Homo sapiens: one gene and its partners. The protein of the gene in region 1 purifies or fractionates together with the protein of each later gene. This does not show direct contact. Each region holds a gene or a part of one and is shown in the gene's direction. Other genes may lie near its edges. The genes, in order: TRPC1, GRM1 and ENKUR.

The links.
Region 2: the proteins of TRPC1 (region 1) and GRM1 purify together in Homo sapiens (affinity purification with western blotting, with the first as the bait; one study listed by BioGRID). This does not show direct contact.
Region 3: the proteins of TRPC1 (region 1) and ENKUR purify together in Homo sapiens (affinity purification with western blotting, with the first as the bait; one study listed by BioGRID). This does not show direct contact.

Annotation. Positions count from the first base shown.
Region 1 is NC_000003.12:142,730,454-142,734,108, forward strand, and holds part of TRPC1 (short transient receptor potential channel 1), read left to right. Parts: intron 1-3,655. UniProt on the Homo sapiens protein: Forms a receptor-activated non-selective calcium permeant cation channel. Forms a heteromeric ion channel with TRPC4 or TRPC5 that has reduced calcium permeability compared to the homomeric TRPC4 or TRPC5 channel.
Region 2 is NC_000006.12:146,434,502-146,438,156, forward strand, and holds the end of GRM1 (metabotropic glutamate receptor 1 isoform alpha precursor), read left to right. Parts: coding exon 1-295; 3' UTR 296-3,100; downstream 3,101-3,655. UniProt on the Homo sapiens protein: G-protein coupled receptor for glutamate. Ligand binding causes a conformation change that triggers signaling via guanine nucleotide-binding proteins (G proteins) and modulates the activity of down-stream effectors.
Region 3 is NC_000010.11:24,988,581-24,992,235, reverse strand, and holds part of ENKUR (enkurin), read left to right. Parts: intron 1-1,626; coding exon 1,627-1,773; intron 1,774-3,655. UniProt on the Homo sapiens protein: Adapter that functions to localize a calcium-sensitive signal transduction machinery in sperm to a calcium-permeable ion channel.

The DNA of each region.
Region 1 (3,655 bases):
CAGTTTAGCCTACCATGTTTTTTAGTATCTTTAATTTTGAAGGTTTCATTTACAATAATATGGTTATAAATACATTGGGGTCTGTAATACGAGTTTTGCACATTTGATAAAGCTACATTTTAAATCATTTTCACTGTAAAAAGTCTGCATGGGTTTTTTTTTTTTTTCCTTTTTAAAATTTGGTTCAAGCTAATTTGAAGTTTGATGTCAGTTAACATTTTTATCAGTATTGTCATTTATATTTCCAGATCCAGCAACTGAACTTGATCATGTCTTTTTATTTTTTCACATCATCATTCTTTTTCCTCTTAATAAAACTTTCTGTTTTAAGCATCATTGGTAATATTTCAGTTAGAATGTTGCAATTGCCACACTCAGGTTTGTTACAGAAACTTGGTTTGAAAAGCTTTACAAATTTTTTGACATTAAATTCTCTCACACTTCACAACTAACTTCAAATTTGGTTAATATAAAATTAAACTGAACAACATTGATACTCTCTTTGCCATAAAATCAAACGAGATGCTAATGAGGAAGAGGTGGAATCACCTGTTCTTAATCAGTATTGTAACATTTCTCCATTGTATTTCTCAAGGGTTTATTACAGTTGGCCAGAGTAAATTTGTTGCTAAGGATCTATGGGATCACTCTGGTATTTTGTATACTAGTTCATTTTTTTTAAATTGCTGGTTAGGACTCACTAAATTGATTTTATGACTGTTAATGGGTTGCAACCTGCAGTTTGGAAAACATTGGTTTGGAATGATCATTGGCTGAGCCGCAGAGAGGCACAAGATGAATTCAGAATGTTAACAAGGTCTAACTAAGTCCTATAGGGCTTTGTAGGCCACAGTAGAAATTTGGCCTTTATTTTAAGTGTGATAGAAAAATCACAAAGTTTGTAAGCTTGATATGTTTTGATTTTTTTTTTTTTTTTTTTTTTTTTTTTGAGACCGAGTCTCGCTCTGTCGCCCAGGCTAGAGTGCAGTGGCGTGATCTCGGTTCACTGCAAGCTCCGCCTCCCACGTTCACGCCATTCTCCTGCCTCAGCCTCCCAAGTAGCTGGGACTACAGGTGCCCCCCACCATGCCCGGCTAATTTTTTGTATTTTTAGTAGAGGCGGGGTTTCACTGTGTTAGCCAAGATGGTCTCCATCTCCTGACCTCATGATCCGCCTGCCTCAGCCTCCCAAAGTGCTGGGATTACAGGCATGAGCCACCGCGCCCGGCTTGTGTTTTGAATTTTTAACCGATAACTCTAGCTGTGGAGTGCAGAGTGGATTGAAGGGGTGGGGCTAGAGCAGGAGTGAGCAAACTATGGGCCACAGACCATATCTGCCTGTTCTGTGAGGTCTTGGAGCTAAAACTGGTTTTTTACATTTTATATTTCAAATGGTTAAAAAAAATTTCGTAACACATGAAAAGTCTATAAAATTCAAATTTCAGTGTCCATAAACAAAATTTTCTTAGAACACATCCACTATCATTTGTTTACATATGGTCTGTGGCTGCTTTTGTGTTGAAAGGGCAGAGTTGAGTAGCTGTGACTGAGAGTGCATGGCCCACAAAGCTTAAAATATTTACTCTCTAACCCTTTTTCAGAAAACTTTGTTGACCCCTGTGCTACAGTATAAAGTATTAGTAAGTAATATAAGTTGCAATAGGGAAAAGAGTAAACAAGGAAGGGGGTGAGTGTGGGCTCAGTGGAGTCAGGGAAGTGAAAAATTACAAAATACGGGGCTTGGGGAGTTGGTCCATGTGAATCCCACCTGAGTTTGCTAAAGGCACTTAAGGAGTTAGGCTCCTACCCTCCCTGGAGGCTGAGAGATAGGGGCCCTGTCTTCAGGTGTTGGCTGGAACAAAAGTAAATTTTTATGTCAGCTTTGAGTTTTCTCGGGCAGGCATTTTAAGAGGGGCTAGGGTCATCCTAGGGATCCGGCCTTCAGCTGTTAGAAACACTTAAGTGTTTTGTTCAAGTTTATATGGGCCAAGGTGGAGGCCTTGTGGAGAAGGGCTCAGAAAAGCCTGACTAGAGTTTGGTTAAGGAGAGAATCTTGGTCAGCAGCTGTGTTAGTTAAGAGGCTATTGCAGAGTCCAGGAGGAAGATCATGGGGGTTTGGACTGTGGGTAGCAGTATACATGGAGACAAGTAGATGATTATGGGAGATATTTTAGAGAGGGGGCTAAGAAGACGTGCTGTTGAATTGGTATACTCCCTGTGGAATTGATTGAAAATGGTTTCTTTTTCCTTGACTGAAAAAGACTACCATCTAGCCAAAAAAGTAAACAGATTATGTTGCACTTCCTTCTATGTGTTATATTTTAAAAGACAAAAGATGTAACTCTTGAAAGCAACTTCGTTATAAAATGAATGGCATTTATATATTTGTCTGTCATACACAGGCATTTTGAATTGTAATCCTTGTTCTATAACTAGCTACTTGCTGTCTATTTTAAGTTTTCTGACCTCTTTTTACATATATACTCATCCTAAAAATTAAGAGTGTTCTGGTCTTTTTTTTTTTTTGACATAGTGCATTGTTTTAAATGAATTGCAAATATAAACTTCTCTGAAATGCTTAGCAACCACTCTAGGTTTCCTGTAGGTTCTGTGACTATAATGTGATTTTTCATTTGCATGACTGTGTTAGCTGTAGCAGGGTGGAACCTTTTATTTTTAGGGATGAAAATTATTTATTTGGTTTTGATTTTTAGGGATTTTCTTTCTTTCTTGTATAGCTCCTTGACTACAATAGAAATAATCTTTAAAACCTTAGGGCTGGGCACGGTGGCTTATGACTGTAATCTCAGCACTTTGGGAGGCCAAGGCGGGCAGATCACTTGAGGTCAGGAGTTCGAGACCAGGCTAGCCAACATGGTGAAACCACATCTCTACTAAAAATACAAAAATTAGCCGGGCGTGGTGGCAGCTGCCTGTAATCCCAGCTACTCAGGAGGCTGAGGCAGGAGAATCGCTTGAACCCAGGAGGCAGAGGTTGCAGTGAGCCAAATGGTGCCATTGTACTCCTCCAGCCTGGGTGACAGAGTGAGTCTCTGTCTTAAAAACAAAACAAAAACTTTAAAGCTGGAATATATGATATTTGTAATGTACTTTCCTTTTTAACAGCAATCTAAACTTTTAAACATGTAGCAGTTATTTTTGTCTATTTGCTATACCTGAAATTTATAAAATGTCATAAGGATTTATTTGTGTAGCTCTTCCTACGTTTCTGTCTCTAGCAATATGGTTGATTAGATAATCTGAAAACCTTTCTTCTTCAAATCACCTAGAAATTATAGCTAAAATATAATGAACATCCAGTTAAATGAACAGCTGAGCTTTCAAGAAAGTAGGGGAAACAACCAAGATACAAAAGTGAAGAAAAAACTGAAAAACAGGAGTTTGTGAGCTGACACTATGGCTGCTCCATGGGTGGGGATAAGAGTTACTGTTCTGGGCATTGCAGGGATTTGAGTCTTAATGCCCATATGAGAACAGGTTACAAGGCCTGGAGACTGTACAAAGTGAGGAGTTGGATTCAACATCTAAGCATAAAACCAGGATTCTTAAAGGACTGTACCTTCAGCAAAGAGGTAGATGAGGAGAAAAACCAATCTACCAGCACATGGAGACTTCAAAGAAGCTTGTTTGTGTT
Region 2 (3,655 bases), on another chromosome or scaffold:
CGACGACAGCGAGAGGTTTAAGCTCCTCCAGGAGTACGTGTATGAGCACGAGCGGGAAGGGAACACGGAAGAAGACGAACTGGAAGAGGAGGAGGAGGACCTGCAGGCGGCCAGCAAACTGACCCCGGATGATTCGCCTGCGCTGACGCCTCCGTCGCCTTTCCGCGACTCGGTGGCCTCGGGCAGCTCGGTGCCCAGCTCCCCCGTGTCCGAGTCGGTGCTCTGCACCCCTCCCAACGTATCCTACGCCTCTGTCATTCTGCGGGACTACAAGCAAAGCTCTTCCACCCTGTAAGGGGGAAGGGTCCACATAGAAAAGCAAGACAAGCCAGAGATCTCCCACACCTCCAGAGATGTGCAAACAGCTGGGAGGAAAAGCCTGGGAGTGGGGGGCCTCGTCGGGAGGACAGGAGACCGCTGCTGCTGCTGCCGCTACTGCTGCTGCTGCCTTAAGTAGGAAGAGAGGGAAGGACACCAAGCAAAAAATGTTCCAGGCCAGGATTCGGATTCTTGAATTACTCGAAGCCTTCTCTGGGAAGAAAGGGAATTCTGACAAAGCACAATTCCATATGGTATGTAACTTTTATCACAAATCAAATAGTGACATCACAAACATAATGTCCTCTTTTGCACAATTGTGCATAGATATATATATGCCCACACACACTGGGCCATGCTTGCCAAGGAACAGCCCACGTGGACATGCCAGTCGGATCATGAGTTCACCTGATGGCATTCGGAGTGAGCTGGTGGAGCCAGACAGAGCAGGTGCGGGGAAGGGAAGGGCCCAGGCCAGACCCATCCCAAACGGATGATGGGATGATGGGACAGCAGCTCCTTGCTCAGAAGCCCTTCTCCCCGCTGGGCTGACAGACTCCTCATCTTCAGGAGACTCAGGAATGGAGCGGCACAGGGGTCTCTCTTCATCCACTGCAACCCATCCAGTGCCAGCTTTGAGATTGCACTTGAAGAAAGGTGCATGGACCCCCTGCTGCTCTGCAGATTCCCTTTATTTAGGAAAACAGGAATAAGAGCAAAATTATCACCAAAAAGTGCTTCATCAGGCGTGCTACAGGAGGAAGGAGCTAGAAATAGAACAATCCATCAGCATGAGACTTTGAAAAAAAAACACATGATCAGCTTCTCATGTTCCATATTCACTTATTGGCGATTTGGGGAAAAGGCCGGAACAAGAGATTGTTACGAGAGTGGCAGAAACCCTTTTGTAGATTGACTTGTGTTTGTGCCAAGCGGGCTTTCCATTGACCTTCAGTTAAAGAACAAACCATGTGACAAAATTGTTACCTTCCACTTACTGTAGCAAATAATACCTACAAGTTGAACTTCTAAGATGCGTATATGTACAATTTGGTGCCATTATTTCTCCTACGTATTAGAGAAACAAATCCATCTTTGAATCTAATGGTGTACTCATAGCAACTATTACTGGTTTAAATGACAAATAATTCTATCCTATTGTCACTGAAGTCCTTGTAACTAGCGAGTGAATGTGTTCCTGTGTCCTTGTATATGTGCGATCGTAAAATTTGTGCAATGTAATGTCAAATTGACTGGTCAATGTCAACCTAGTAGTCAATCTAACTGCAATTAGAAATTGTCTTTTGAATATACTATATATATTTTTTATGTTCCAATAATGTTTTGTACATCATTGTCATCAATATCTACAGAAGCTCTTTGACGGTTTGAATACTATGGCTCAAGGTTTTCATATGCAGCTCGGATGGACATTTTTCTTCTAAGATGGAACTTATTTTTCAGATATTTTCTGATGTGGAGATATGTTATTAATGAAGTGGTTTGAAAATTTGTTATATTAAAAGTGCACAAAAACTGAGAGTGAAAATAAAAGGTACATTTTATAAGCTTGCACACATTATTAACACATAAGATTGAACAAAGCATTTAGATTATTCCAGGTTATATCATTTTTTTAAAGATTTTCCACAGCTACTTGAGTGTCTAACATACAGTAACATCTAACTCAGCTAATAATTTGTAAAATCTTTATCAATCACATTTTGCCTTCTTTTAATTTTTATGTTCATGGACTTTTATTCCTGTGTCTTGGCTGTCATAACTTTTTATTTCTGCTATTTGCTGTTGTGTAATATCCATGGACATGTAATCCACTTACTCCATCTTTACAATCCCTTTTTACCACCAATAAAAGGATTTTTCTTGCTGTTTTGATTTCTTCTATTATTTGTGGAATGAATTATACCCCCCTTAAATATCTTTGTTTATGCCTTATGTTCAGTCATATTTTAATATGCTTCCTTCATATTGAAGCTGCTGATTTCTCAGCCAAAAATCATCTTAGAATCTTTAAATATCCATTGCATCATTTGTTCAGAATTTAACATCCATTCCAATGTTGGAGGCTTGTATTACTTATATTTCATCATATTCTATTGCCAAGTTTAGTCAGTTCCACACCAAGAATGAACTGCATTTCCTTTAAAAATTATTTTAAAACACCTTTATTGAAAAGATCTCATGACTGAGATGTGGACTTTGGTTCCATGTTTTCATTGTAAGAAAGCAGAGAGCGGAAAATCAATGGCTCCAGTGATTAATAGATGGGTTTTTAGTAATTGACAAATTCATGAGGGAAAGCATATGATCTCTTTATTAGTGAATCATGCTTATTTTTTACTCTTAATGCCACTAATATACATCCCTAATATCACAGGGCTTGTGCATTCAGATTTTTAAAAAATTAGGATAGATAAGGAAACAACTTATATTCAAGTGTAAGATGATATCAGGTTGGTCTAAGACTTTTGGTGAACACGTTCATTCAACTGTGATCACTTTATTACTCTGAATGCCTACTATTATCCTGATTATGGGGTCTCCTGAATAAATAGAGTATTAGTCCTTATGTCATCATTGTTCAAAATTGGAGATGTACACATACATACCCTATACCAAGAGGGCCGAAACTCTTCACCTTGATGTATGTTCTGATACAAGTTGTTCAGCTTCTTGTAAATGTGTTTTCCTTCGGCTTGTTACTGCCTTTTGTCAAATAATCTTGACAATGCTGTATAATAAATATTTTCTATTTATTAAATGTGTATGTTCTTTCTCTATAGTCTGTGAGAGTTATAATAATAGAAATAGACCAGTGGAAGAAATAATTCCAAGGTTTTGATTTGACTCAGAACATGTCTTCTGGGTGAAAGCTGGAGAATGCCACACAAGATCTACAGATCAAGTAGGTGAGAAGTACAATTTGACCATGAAGAAGTGGTACCTCATGTTGTAACAGTTTTAAATGAACTCCAAAATTAAAATTTGCAGTGCCCTTGGCAGATATTGTCATTCGTCTTTTTGATGAGGGTGTGAGGCTGAACAAACTCCTGGCGTTCTAGTGGAGCTCTGGGGGCAAAGGCATCCAATGTTCCCAGCTTTGTTTCATTCATGCCCTACAAGGCTTTTCTTTCCATGGTTCACACTTTAGGGGGGCCTCGTTTCCAACCTTACTGCTACTCTTCTGCTCACCCTAAGTTCTATTCCTCTACATTTCAACTGACACCTCATTGGTTCCCCAAACAAAGGAGTCTCTGTTATTCACATTTTCTGCTATGAGATTCCTGCAAAGTAGGGCATTTCCCAAGTATCACTT
Region 3 (3,655 bases), on another chromosome or scaffold:
GTCACCATAGAATGCAAATTCCCTGAAGACGGAAACTTTGCCTTTTTTATTCACTAGTATTCCTAGCACCAAGTACATTCTCAAACATCTTTTGAAGAAGGAATACATAGTAATTCTGTTTCTATAGATGGTGAAATCAAACGCATTTACTAAGCTGAAAGAATCACAGCTGATGGCTTCACTGTCAGTCGTTGTGACATGGGAAAATTCCCTTATTCCCCTCGCAGAGTGTACCATAGGGCTGTGGCTCACTTCTTCAGTGCCCCACTGCTCACACTTCTAGGGGGAGCATGCCGAAGGGCAGGTTGTGAGGCTCTGACTCCAAAGCAGGGTCTATGGGTCGATGTTTACAGCTCCTGAAGCCGCAGTGGGCGTGTGTTACAGGGTGCTCTTTTGGTTTAGCTGTCCATAGGTGGCTTGTGTTTGCTCAATTAGACTCCCTGCCTTATGACAAGGACAGAGGGCTTCCAAAGGACTTTCTGTATCCCAGGAGTCTTGCCTTGGTATACTTGAAGAATTGGATCACACGTGGGCTTGGAGAATGAGTGCAAGGTTTTATTGAGTGGAAGTAGCTTCAGCAGATGGGAGAGCCAGAAGGGAGATGGTTTTTCCCTGGAGCCGGGCAGCTCTGTGGCCCGGGCTCTCCTCCCACCACCCCGGCCAAACTCTGCGTTGTTCCACTGATCGATGGCCTGCCGGCATGCTGGTGCCCATTGGTGTGCTCTTTTGTTGGCACGCCCCTGTCAACAGCCTCCACTTATACGTTCTTCCATTGATGTGTTCCTCTCGACGTCCAGCCATTTGTGTGCCTGCCTGCTAGGGTCTCGGGGGGTTTTATAGGCACAGGATGGAGGCATAAGTTTTCAAAGACTTTGTCTTTTCTTTAACGAGACCACGAAAAAGAGACTTCAAAATATTCAAGATATTTCAGGTAAAAACTGAAGCATGTAGAAGGTAGAAGGTAGAAAAGCCAACTCTTGAATATCTTATTCAAGATATTTCAGGTAAAAACTGAAGAACGTAGAAGGTAGAAAAGCCAACTCTTAGGAGTAAAGTATCAGCCAGGAGCAGGCGTGGGAAACATTCAGAAAAGGGAAAACAAGCAACTGCAATAACAACTCCATTTATTTATGTATTTAGAGATGGAGTCACACTCTGACACCCAGGCTGGAGTGCAGTGGCACCTTGGCTCACTGTAACCTCTGCCTCCCAGATTCAAGAGATTTTTGTGCCTCAGCCACCCGAATAGCTGGGACTACTGGCACATGCCACGATGCCTGGCTAATTTCTGTATTTTTAGTAGAGACGGGGTTTCACCATGTTGGCCAGGCTGGTCTCGAACTCCTGACCTCAAGTGATCCACCCCCCCACCCCTCAGCCTCCCAAAGTGCTGGGATTACAGGTGTGAGCCACTATGCCTGGGCAATAACAACTCCATTTTAAAAGGCAGGAATCTACTAGCTCTCAATGGAGGGAAAAAAGTCACTGAATTTTGTCAATTTACAGGGTTTTGAACAAAGGATTTAGTCTGTACCATTTCTTTTTCTTCCATCATCAGTTGATACGTACCCATATGTAAGATTGCATACAAAATATTGATTACTTTTTTCTGCAAAATCTTTTTAGGATTATGGTGTCACACCTGAATACATATGTAAGCGAAACGAGGAAATAAAGAAAGCCCAAGAAGACTATGATCGTTATATCCAGGAAAACCTTAAGAAAGCAGCTATGAAAAGGCTCTCCGATGAAGAAAGGGAGGCAGTTTTGCAGGTGTGTGTTCTGCCATTTACATTCATCTGTAACTCTTTGGATCATCTCTGAAAGAAAGGTGTACCATCACTTTGATGATTAAAGTCAGCACTTGGATTTTGAAATCAGAACAATCTCTTTGGGTTACAGTTAAAAACTACATACAGCAAAGCTGACTCTTTGGAGAGAGCAAAAAGTTGTGATATAGGGATTCATTTAATAATATTTTATTTCCAATTTGGTGAACTGTTTTTTTCCTGAACTAGTGTTGTAAGGAAGCCTACCTTCCTCTACAACGAACATGCATGAAATGAAGCAAATAAAGCATTTTTATTTTCATTTTTATGCCCCTGAGTTTGTGAAAAATAATATTCATAAATTAGATATTTTTCACTAGATGGAGCTCTAGAATAATTGAAACTGTCCTTAAAACAACTTTTTTTCCTTTCCTATAAGGCAAATGTCCAAAATTTTAAATAAACAGGTGCTAGGTTTCACATATGTTTTTCTTGTTTTTAATTACATAGACTTAAAGATATATTTATATTGGATTTTTTAATGCAGGGCTTTTATCTGAAGCATTTAAAATATTAGGGGGTGTAAGAGTTTCTGCTTCATCATTTGTATGAGCGTTTAATTAAACACCTCTTTGTACTTTTTATAGTCATACTGTCTCTTATAGAGGCAGAAATAATACTTAATTCTTTGTTTATTTTTCATTTTGAAAGCATCCCACGAAGCCATTTCTAGTTTATTATTAATCTCTGTTGAAAAATGGATTCATATGCTGTTACAACTTCTGAACATTTTATCAATGTCATCATAATCATCAATAAACATTTCTTAAATGCTAAACCCTGAGGATATTTTAAAAGGCATAAGATTTTTTAAAATATCTGCAGTGGAGTATTGTGCAATTTAATTAGTGAGAGGTACTATGGATCTATGTACATGTATAGATGTGAATATGTGTATGTGTGCAGCTCTTAAGTTTCATAAGGTTCCAAGGCACTAGTCACCCCTGGAGGATTGTAGATCGTTAGCTGGGCCTGAAAATGTAGAGTGACGGCATGTCCCAGACAGTAGGAGTGGCTCAAAGGCAAGGACGGTGTCTCTTTGCTGACAGCAGCATCCCCAGTGCCTAGCACAGTGCCCAGTGAAAACGCAGATGTTCAGAAATGGTCTGCTGCAAAGGAGGAAGGCAGACAGGCAGGAAGGAAGGCTGGCAGACATGGAAGTGAGAATTGGCATGTCATTTTCAGGGAGAGTTCTCGTCTGTGGCCCATTCTGTCTCTCTCATTTGGATTTTCCCATTTTCAGAAAGTACGTGCCTTTGTGAAAGCCAGGTTTTTACACCTAAATGATGCTGAAAAATAAGAATATGACAAAGAACTTAGAAGTGACAGGTCCTTCCCTTCTGTGTCTTTTTGGCTGTAGGAGATAAGCAGCCCTCAGCTTCCCATTACGGTCGCTACAGAGTTACCCTTTGATGTGATGATAGCAAATCATCCACTGGACGCCTTATGAGCCAGGGAGCAGAGCTGCCATAGTAACAAAGCCACCGGCTGGCCTCCTGACGAGCCCTGAGCCACACTTCCTTCCCTAGGCAAGAGTTGCATGTAGTTCGATGACAATCTGGTTGTATGTCCCTGAGTAAGCCACATTCTGCTCATTCTTCATAAAATAACAGTCTCATTATACCTGGACAGGATCATCTGGTCTAGTGATTCCAAACTTCTCATTTTTAAAATGAGGAATATATATATATATATATATATATATATATATATATATATATATATATATATATATATATATACATATGCTGTGTCACTCTACATTTTCAGGCCAGCTAAAGATCTATAATCCTCCAGTGGTGACTAGTGCATTGGAACCTTATGAA